Linked DNA regions of Homo sapiens: region 1 is reported to be linked to region 2. Evidence: microRNA targets listed by miRTarBase, many of them from high-throughput screens and not tested one by one. Region 2 holds a microRNA gene; the other region holds the end of a gene's coding sequence.
The links. Region 2 holds the annotated microRNA hsa-miR-423-3p (AGCUCGGUCUGAGGCCCCUCAGU, at 1,146-1,168, shown strand). A microRNA usually pairs through its seed, bases 2 to 8, with sites in the 3' UTR of a target mRNA and lowers its output. Matches are read on the target gene's strand: a 7mer-m8 pairs with bases 2 to 8, a 7mer-A1 pairs with bases 2 to 7 and ends in A, and an 8mer does both.

Region 1: the mRNA of C22orf42 is a reported target of hsa-miR-423-3p. The part of its 3' UTR that is shown has no 7-base or 8-base seed match.

Annotation. Positions count from the first base shown.
Region 1 is chr22:32,145,859-32,150,039 of GRCh38, reverse strand. It overlaps C22orf42 (chromosome 22 open reading frame 42), which reads left to right. Exons shown (of 9, transcript NM_001010859.3): 8 at 260-287; 9 at 427-1,034. The coding sequence ends at 500. Among named protein-coding and RNA genes, the nearest start is that of C22orf42, 11 kb to the left of the region's middle.
Region 2 is chr17:30,115,986-30,119,985 of GRCh38, forward strand. It overlaps MIR423 (microRNA 423), which reads left to right and starts at 1,094; the gene lies at 1,094-1,187. NSRP1 (nuclear speckle splicing regulatory protein 1) reads left to right here and starts at 831. Exons shown (of 7, transcript NM_032141.4): 1 at 831-878; 2 at 2,095-2,188. The coding sequence starts at 859. It overlaps MIR3184 (microRNA 3184), which reads right to left and starts at 1,175; the gene lies at 1,101-1,175. RefSeq lists enhancers at 342-1,541, 574-693, 714-813, 844-943 and silencers at 656-1,257, 1,194-1,263.

The sequences.
Region 1 (4,181 bases), not on the chromosome of region 2:
GTAGTGAGCATATTTCTCAGTAGCAACTTTTTCTTCTTGAAAAATAATTTTGTGTTTGCCAGCCAACATGGACTTACTAAATATTCCATGAAAACCCATTGCCTTTTCCACACACATCGTCTATGCTTCATTCGGGGGGCCAGTGACTTGATCACTGTTTGACATGTTGTTTTCTACGTCACCAAGTGAATAATAGACCTGTGCCAACAGGGCCCAGCATGATCCGATCCTCATGGCGTTTTCCTTTCTCCTATTGCAGGCAAAGGAGAGATATGAAGATTACCTCTGTAAGTATATATATATCTAGATATATATAGATATATATGTAGATATAGATATAGATATAGATATGTAGATATACATATATGTAGATATATATATATATATATTTTTTTTTTGAGATGAAGTCTTGTTCTTTTCCCCTAGGCTGGGTTAAGATGGCACGGTCTCGGCTCAATGAACCCATCAGCAGCCAGGTTCTAGGACTTCTCCGGCTTTAGTGTTCCAAGTAGCTGGGATTACAGACGCCTGCCATCACGCCCAGCTCAAATCATTTTATGAATGCATATTTCCATCTGGGTGAAAAAAAAATCACAAGCCTCTCTCTCTTCCTACTGAGCACCTGTGAACAGTGACCTGCAGTTTGTGGCTGCAGCCAGTCCTCTTGCAGCCTGGTGTTCTTACATTTCATTCTGAGGCTCACATTCTCAGTCACCATGCAGAAGAACACCCGCCCCATCCTGGGTCATTACAGAGTGGGTCAATCCATCTGCTGCATCTGAAGAGCTGGGTCCAGCTTCTACAGTGAATCCATATATTTCTGTATTTCCTGGATAAGGAAGAGCAAAGGAGCTGAGCTGGTGGAGGAAGAAGAACTAATATTAACTGACTCCTTATTTTGTGCTAGTACTGTGCTAGTTACATATTTTATCTCATGTAATTCTTACCAAACTGTAAGGGGGTTTCGGAGTGATGGAGACAATATTGATGTTATCTCCATTTTAGGGTGAGAAAATAAAGGCTCAGAAATGTTATATTACTTGCCCAAGGTCACTCAGCTGCTAAGAGCCAGGATATGAAACAGAAGCTTTACATTAGAAGGGTTCAAATTTATTTTCAATTTCCCTGCTCCATTCTGAATAGGTATTGGCATTTACCCTTGGGCTATGTAGAACAAGTGCTTTGTCACCAAAACATCTATTGTGAACTCTTTCTGCCCTAGTAGGATTCGTGCATTTTATCTTCTTCAAAGTAAAAACCTTTAAGAGCCAGGAATCTGCCACACTGACTCTCAACTTAAATCTCAGCCACTTTTACCTTAAAATTCAGACTTGTGTAGACCTCTCTAGAAGACTTGGTGGACTAATCTTTAAGAGTTCATTTGCATGAGGGAGGAAGAGGAGCCCACATTTGGACCAAAGACATGCCTAGAAGTCGGCGCAGGAGGGTCAGCAGGAAGTCTGTTTCTTAGAGTTCCTCCAGCCCAGTCTGAGTGGTAGAAATCAGGAACTGAAAATAAATCTGAAAGGTGTTTGAAATCATGGTGAGACATGGGTAACATAATATATTGGGGGTTTGTGTTATAAATGAGGCTATTTTCGTATGTTTAGTATTTTGTATTTTTAGTAGAGATGGGGTTTCACCATGTTGGCCAGGCTGGTCTCGAACTCCTGATCTCAAGTGATCCCCCTACCTCAGCCTCCCAAAGTGCTGGGATTACAGGCGTGAGCCACCGTGCCCAGCCATATATATTACATATATATATATATATATATATATATATATATATATATATATATGTACACACACACACACACACACACACTTACGGTGGGCCAGGCACAGTAGCTCATGCCTGTAATCCCAGTACTTTGGGAGGCAGAGGCGGGCAGGTCACAAGGTCAGGAGATCGAGACCATCCTAGCTAACACGGTGAAACTTCATCTCTACTAAAAATACAGAAAATTAGCCGGGTGTGGTGGCGGGCACCTGTGGTCCCAGCTACTCGGGAGGCTGAGGCAGGAGAAAGGCATCAACCCGGGAGGTGGAGGTTGCAGTGAGCCAAGATTGCGCCACTGCACTCCAGCCTGGGCGACAGAGCGAGACTGCCTCTAAAGAAAAAAAAAAAAAAAAAAAATATATATATATATATATACTAAATACATATAATATATTATTGGGGGACCTGCCCTGATAATCACGTAGATTCTTTTCTATTTTTCCTAAGCGTCAGCTGGCTTGAGAAATAAAGGGACAGAGTACAAAAGAGAGAAATTTTAACACTGGGTGTCCGGGGGAGACATCACACATTGGTAGGATCCGTGATGCCCCACAAGCCACAAAAACCAGCAAGTTTTTATTAGGGATTTTCAAAAGGGGAGGGAGTGTGCAAATAGGTGTGGGTGACAGACATCAAGTAATTAACAGGGTAATAGAATATCGCAAGGCAAGTGGAGGCAGGGTGAGATCACAGGACCACAGGACGGAGGCGAAATTAAAATTGCTAATGAAGTTTCAGGCACCATTGTCATTGATAACATCTTATCAGGAGACAGGGTTTTGAGATCAACCGGTCTGACCAAAATTTATTAGGCGGGAATTTCCTCTTCCTAATAAGCCTGGGAGCGCTATGGGAGACTGGAGTTTATTTATCTCTGCAGCCTTGACCATAAGAGACAGGTACGCCCCAGTGGGGGGGGCAGTTCAGAGACCTACACCCAGGTGCGCATTCTCTTTCTCAGGGATGTTCCATGCTGAGAAAAAGAATTCAGCGATATTTCTCCCATTTGCTTTTGAAAGAAGACAAATATGGCTCTGTTCTGCCCGGCTCACCGGTGGTCAGAGTTTAAGGTTACCTCTCTTATTCCCTGAACAATTGCTGTTATCCTGTTCTTTTTTCAAAGTGCTCAGATTTCATATTGCTCAAACACACACGCTGTACAATTTGTGCAGTTAATGCAATTATCACATAGCCCTGAGGCGAAATACATCCTCCTCGACTGACAAGATTAAGAGATTAAAGTAAAGACAAGCATAGGAAATCACAAGGGTATTGATGGGGGAAGTGATAAGTGTCCATGAAATCTTTACAATTTATGTTTAGAGATTGCAGTAAAGACAGGCATAAGATTAAAAAAGTATTAATTTGGGGAACTAATAAATGTCCATAAAATCTTCACAATCCACATTCTTGTGTCATGGCTTCAGCCGGTCCCTCCGTTTGGGGTCCCTGACTTCCCGCAACAATATATAAATATATATATATAATATATAAATATATATATAATATATACATATAAATATATATAATATATAAATATATATAATATATACATATAAATATATATAATATATACATATAAATATATATAATATATAATATAGATTATATTATATATTATATATATAATCTATATTATATACTATATATAATATATATATTATATACTATAGATTATATATAGTTATATATAACTATATAATATATAACATATATTATATATTATATATAATCATATATATAATTATATATAATATAATTATATATTATATATTATATATATTTATATATAAATAATAAATAAATATATATTTATATATCAAATATATAAAAATATATTTGATATATAAATAATAAATATATAATATATAATATATTATATATTATATTATATTATATATTATTATATATTAATTATATATAATATATATAACATATATATTATATTATATATATTATATTATATAATATATAATATTAATAATATAATATATATTATATATTATTATATATTATATAATATATTATATGTTATATAATAATATATAATATAATAATATATAATATATTATATTATATAATAATATATATGTTATATAATATAATATAATATATATTATATTATATTATATTATATTATATATTATATAATATATAATATATTATATTGTATTATATTATATATATGATAATATATTATATTATCTAATATATATCTTATATATTATCTAATATATTATCTAATATATATTATCTTATTTATTATCTAATATATAAGATAATATATAATATATATTATATAGTTATATAGTTATATAATTATATATAATATATATTATATATTATATAAAACATATAATATATATTATGTAAAACATATATTATATATTATATAAAATAT
Region 2 (4,000 bases):
AACAGTATTATTAATAATTTTGGTCCTTGGGCCGGGCGCGGTGGCTCATGCCTGTAATCCCAGCAATTTGGGAGGCCGAGTCGGGCGGATCACCCGAGGTCGGGAGTTCGAGACCAGCCTGACCAACATGGAGAAACCCCGTCTCTACTAAAAATACAAACTTAGCCGGGCGTGGTGGCACATGCCTGTAATCCCAGCTACTCGGGAGGCTGAGGCAGGAGAATCGCTTGAACCCGGGAGGCGGAGGTTGAGGTAACCGAGTTCGCGCCTTTGCACTCTAGCCTGGGCAACAAGAGCGAAACTCCGTCTCAAAAAAAAAATTTTTTTTTTAATAATAATTTTGGTCCTATGTAAGGTATTATTAATACACAGATTTTCATTTTTCGCCTAATTATCCTGAACCAGTTAAAGTGAACACTTGGAAGGGGGTAGGGGGAATATCGATAGCCATGGCAGTGGTTTTCAAACTTTATCAGAATTACCCGCTGGTTAAAATTCAGATAACTCGCTTCACTCCAAAGTTTCTGATTCTGCAGGTTTGGGGTAGGGCCCGAGAATTTGTCATTTTAACAGTATCTCCGGTGTTGCTGATGCCGCTGGTCCCAGAACCACACACTGCGAACAACTGGCCTAGAACGTTGTCATTCCTTTCTCCTACAGATTTTGAGGCAGCCGGTGGGCTCCGAAACAAAACAGAGGTCACTGGATCCGATTCCCAGTACCATAGAAGTGACTCAAACCAGCGATTCAACCGACAAGCAGGATCCGGGCCACCCAAAGCCGCGCGAGAGTTTACGTGACGACATCGGCGTCAGCGTCACGGAGGCGTCGGCCACGTTCAGCGGACACGGGAGCAAGATGGCGATTCCGGGCAGGCAGTGAGTGATCCGGGAGTTAGGGTCAGGCTGGGGGATGAGAAACTACGGCGACTGTATCTTTGGCCGAGGAGTTTTAAATGCGCTGGAAGTGAAGGGACTGTGTCGTCAAGGGTAGAGACGGGAAAAAACGAGAAGTCCTGAGGAACATAGATTCCCCTCCCCCGTACATTTTCCCGGATGGAAGCCCGAAGTTTGAGGGAGAAACTTGTGAGGAAATAAAGGAAGTTAGGCTGAGGGGCAGAGAGCGAGACTTTTCTATTTTCCAAAAGCTCGGTCTGAGGCCCCTCAGTCTTGCTTCCTAACCCGCGCTTGAGTTTCTCCCCGCTTGGATGCTCTCAGGGGCAGTGTGAAGAGAGACAGTTCCTGGCTTCCTTAGAGGGCCTTGTTCTCCTTGGCAGAAGCTCAAGTCCTGATTCCCGCCCTTCCTTCTCGTTTTAGGAATATTGTTCTGAGAAGCCACAGAAAAAGGGTAGGCATATAGGAAATTGGGGTATACGTTGCCGCAAAAGAGACAAATACTGTACGTACTTGAAAGTTTTACCTTTGATGTGTAATCCTTACTTTTGATGCGGCCTCCCGTGATCTCCGCATCTTAAAGGCCAAAACGTGAGAAACTAAAGGAGTTGGATCTGATGGGATGGTTCTCTCAGATGCTCCGAGGCAAAGCACATGATCTTAATAAAGTGTAATGCGAACTTGCCCCATGGCTACTTGGGTTTCTCAGTTATCTTTTAAAAATTTTCGTGAGTTACACTATCCAGTCAGTTCTTAGAAACTGTGTAAGTACACAGTAGGAAAAAAAATCTAGCCATTTTCTTGACTGTTTAGACCACAAGGATAGTTGAAAGCATTTTAAAATCTTTAGTGGACATGAACTAAACTTTCCACTACACATGTTTTTTTTTTTTTTTTTTAAATGTTACTGTCACTTCGCCATCTTAAAACATTTCTGAACTTTTCATTTACTTCTCTTCTTTGATAAAAATGGTATTCGAGTTTGGCCCGTGTCCACAAATGATCACTTAGAGTAGTAATTATAGAATCTTACGGCATGTTAGAATTTTGAGATCACTGAGAAGCAAAAACAGTCTGTTACGTGTTCATAAAGCTTATGACATGTTTTGATTTGGTAGCTTCATGTGGAAGAGGTAGTAGATGTATTTGTTAACATTTAAACATAAAGGTTTAATTTCTATTTCAAAAAAAATATATGCAGGTATGGGCTTATTTTGCCAAAGAAAACACAGCAGTTGCACCCTGTTTTGCAAAAACCATCAGTGTTTGGGAATGATTCTGATGATGATGATGAGGTAAGGAAACCTATGTTTTACTCGTGCATGGTTGGAAATGTAAATTTTTTAAAAATTGAACTTGTGACTCTGATACCTTTGCCTTTGTTATTTGTCAGTACAGTGGAGTATAATTTACAGAATTGTCAAAAAGGAAGGTGTAAAGAAAGCAGCTCCACCGATTTTTTAAAGATTTTTTTCCCTCTAAAAGCTGCAAACTTTACCTTTAAACAAATACACGGTCTTTTCAGACTACTGAAATTGTCATAACAAAATTGTTGGTGTAAAGATCCCTAGGTATGAGTTATTAAGATGTCACCAATTTTCTACAAATTTTTATTAGCAAAGCAGTTTTTAATTTGTTAACCATGAGCTAAGATCACTATATAACAGTTCTTAACAACGCTACTTTTTTTTTAAATTCAGTGTCTGCCAAATGTAATTGCTCAGTTATAATCGTGGTAGTGAATAGTTACTCTTGATAGTACTACAGTAACATCTAATATCAACATTTTCTATTTTAGCAGCCAAAACTACTTCTGTGAAACCCACAGTTATATATCAGAAACAATCCCAAATGTGTGCTTTTCTTTTCTCTTTTTTTTTTTTTTTTTGAAACAGTGTCTTGCTCAGTTGCCCAGGCTGGAGTGCAATGCCGCGATCTCGGCTCACTGCAACCTCCGCCTCCTGGGTTCAAGCGATTCTCTTGCCTAATCTTCCTGAGTAGCTGGGATTACAGGCACCTGCCATCATGACCAGCTAATTTTTGTATTTTTGTAGAGACAGGGTCTCACCATGTTGGCCGGGCTAGTCTTGAACTCCTGACCTCAGGTGATCTGCCTGCCTCAGCTTCCCAAAGTGCTGGGATTACAGGCGTAAGCCACCGCACCCAGTAAATATGTGCTTTTCCAATACTCCCATCATGTTTTAATATTTTTTTTTCTTTTTTTTTTTGAGACAGAGTTTCGCTCTTGTTACCTAGGCTAGAGTGGGATGGTGCAGTCTTGGCTCACTGCAACCCCTGCCTCCCAGGTTCAAGTGATTCTCCTGCTTCAATCTCCTGAGTAGCTGGGGTTACAGGTGCCTGCCACCATGCCTGGCTAATTTTTATTTTTTTATTTTTTTGTATTTTTAGTATTTTTAATATTTTTTGTATTTAGTAGATTTTCCTGCCTCAGCCTCCTGAGTAGCTGGGATTACAGGTGCCCCACCACCACGCCCAGCTAATTTTTATATTTTTAGGAGAGACGGGGTTTCACCATGTTGGCCAGGCTGGTCTTGAACCTAACCTCAGGTGATCCACTTGCCTTGGCCTCCCAAAGTGTTGGGATTACAGGCATGAGTCACCATGCCCAGCCTCTTTTTTTTGAGATGGAGTCTCCCTCTTTCGCCCAGGCTGGAGTGCAGTGGTGCGATCTCAGCTCATTGCAACCTCCGCCTCCTGGGTTCAAGCGTTTCTCCTGCCTCAGCCTGCTGAGTAGCAGGGATTACAGGAACACACCACCACGCCTGGCTAATTCTTGTGTTTTTAGTAGAGGTGGGATTTCACCATGTTGATCAGGCTGGTCTCGAACTCCTGACCTCAGATGATCCACCCACCTTGGCCTCCCAAAGTGCTGGAATTACAGGCATGACCCACTGTGCCTGACCGGTTTTCAGTTTTTATTATATAATAGCATGGGTGGATAATTTAACATATTTGATATTTCTTTGCTACTTTTGAAGACATTGGCTCTTTATGGCTCACAGTTTTTAAAAATTGAGGTATAATTTACATATAAAATGCTCAGATTTTAAGTGTACAGCTTGATGATTTTTGACAAATGTATATGC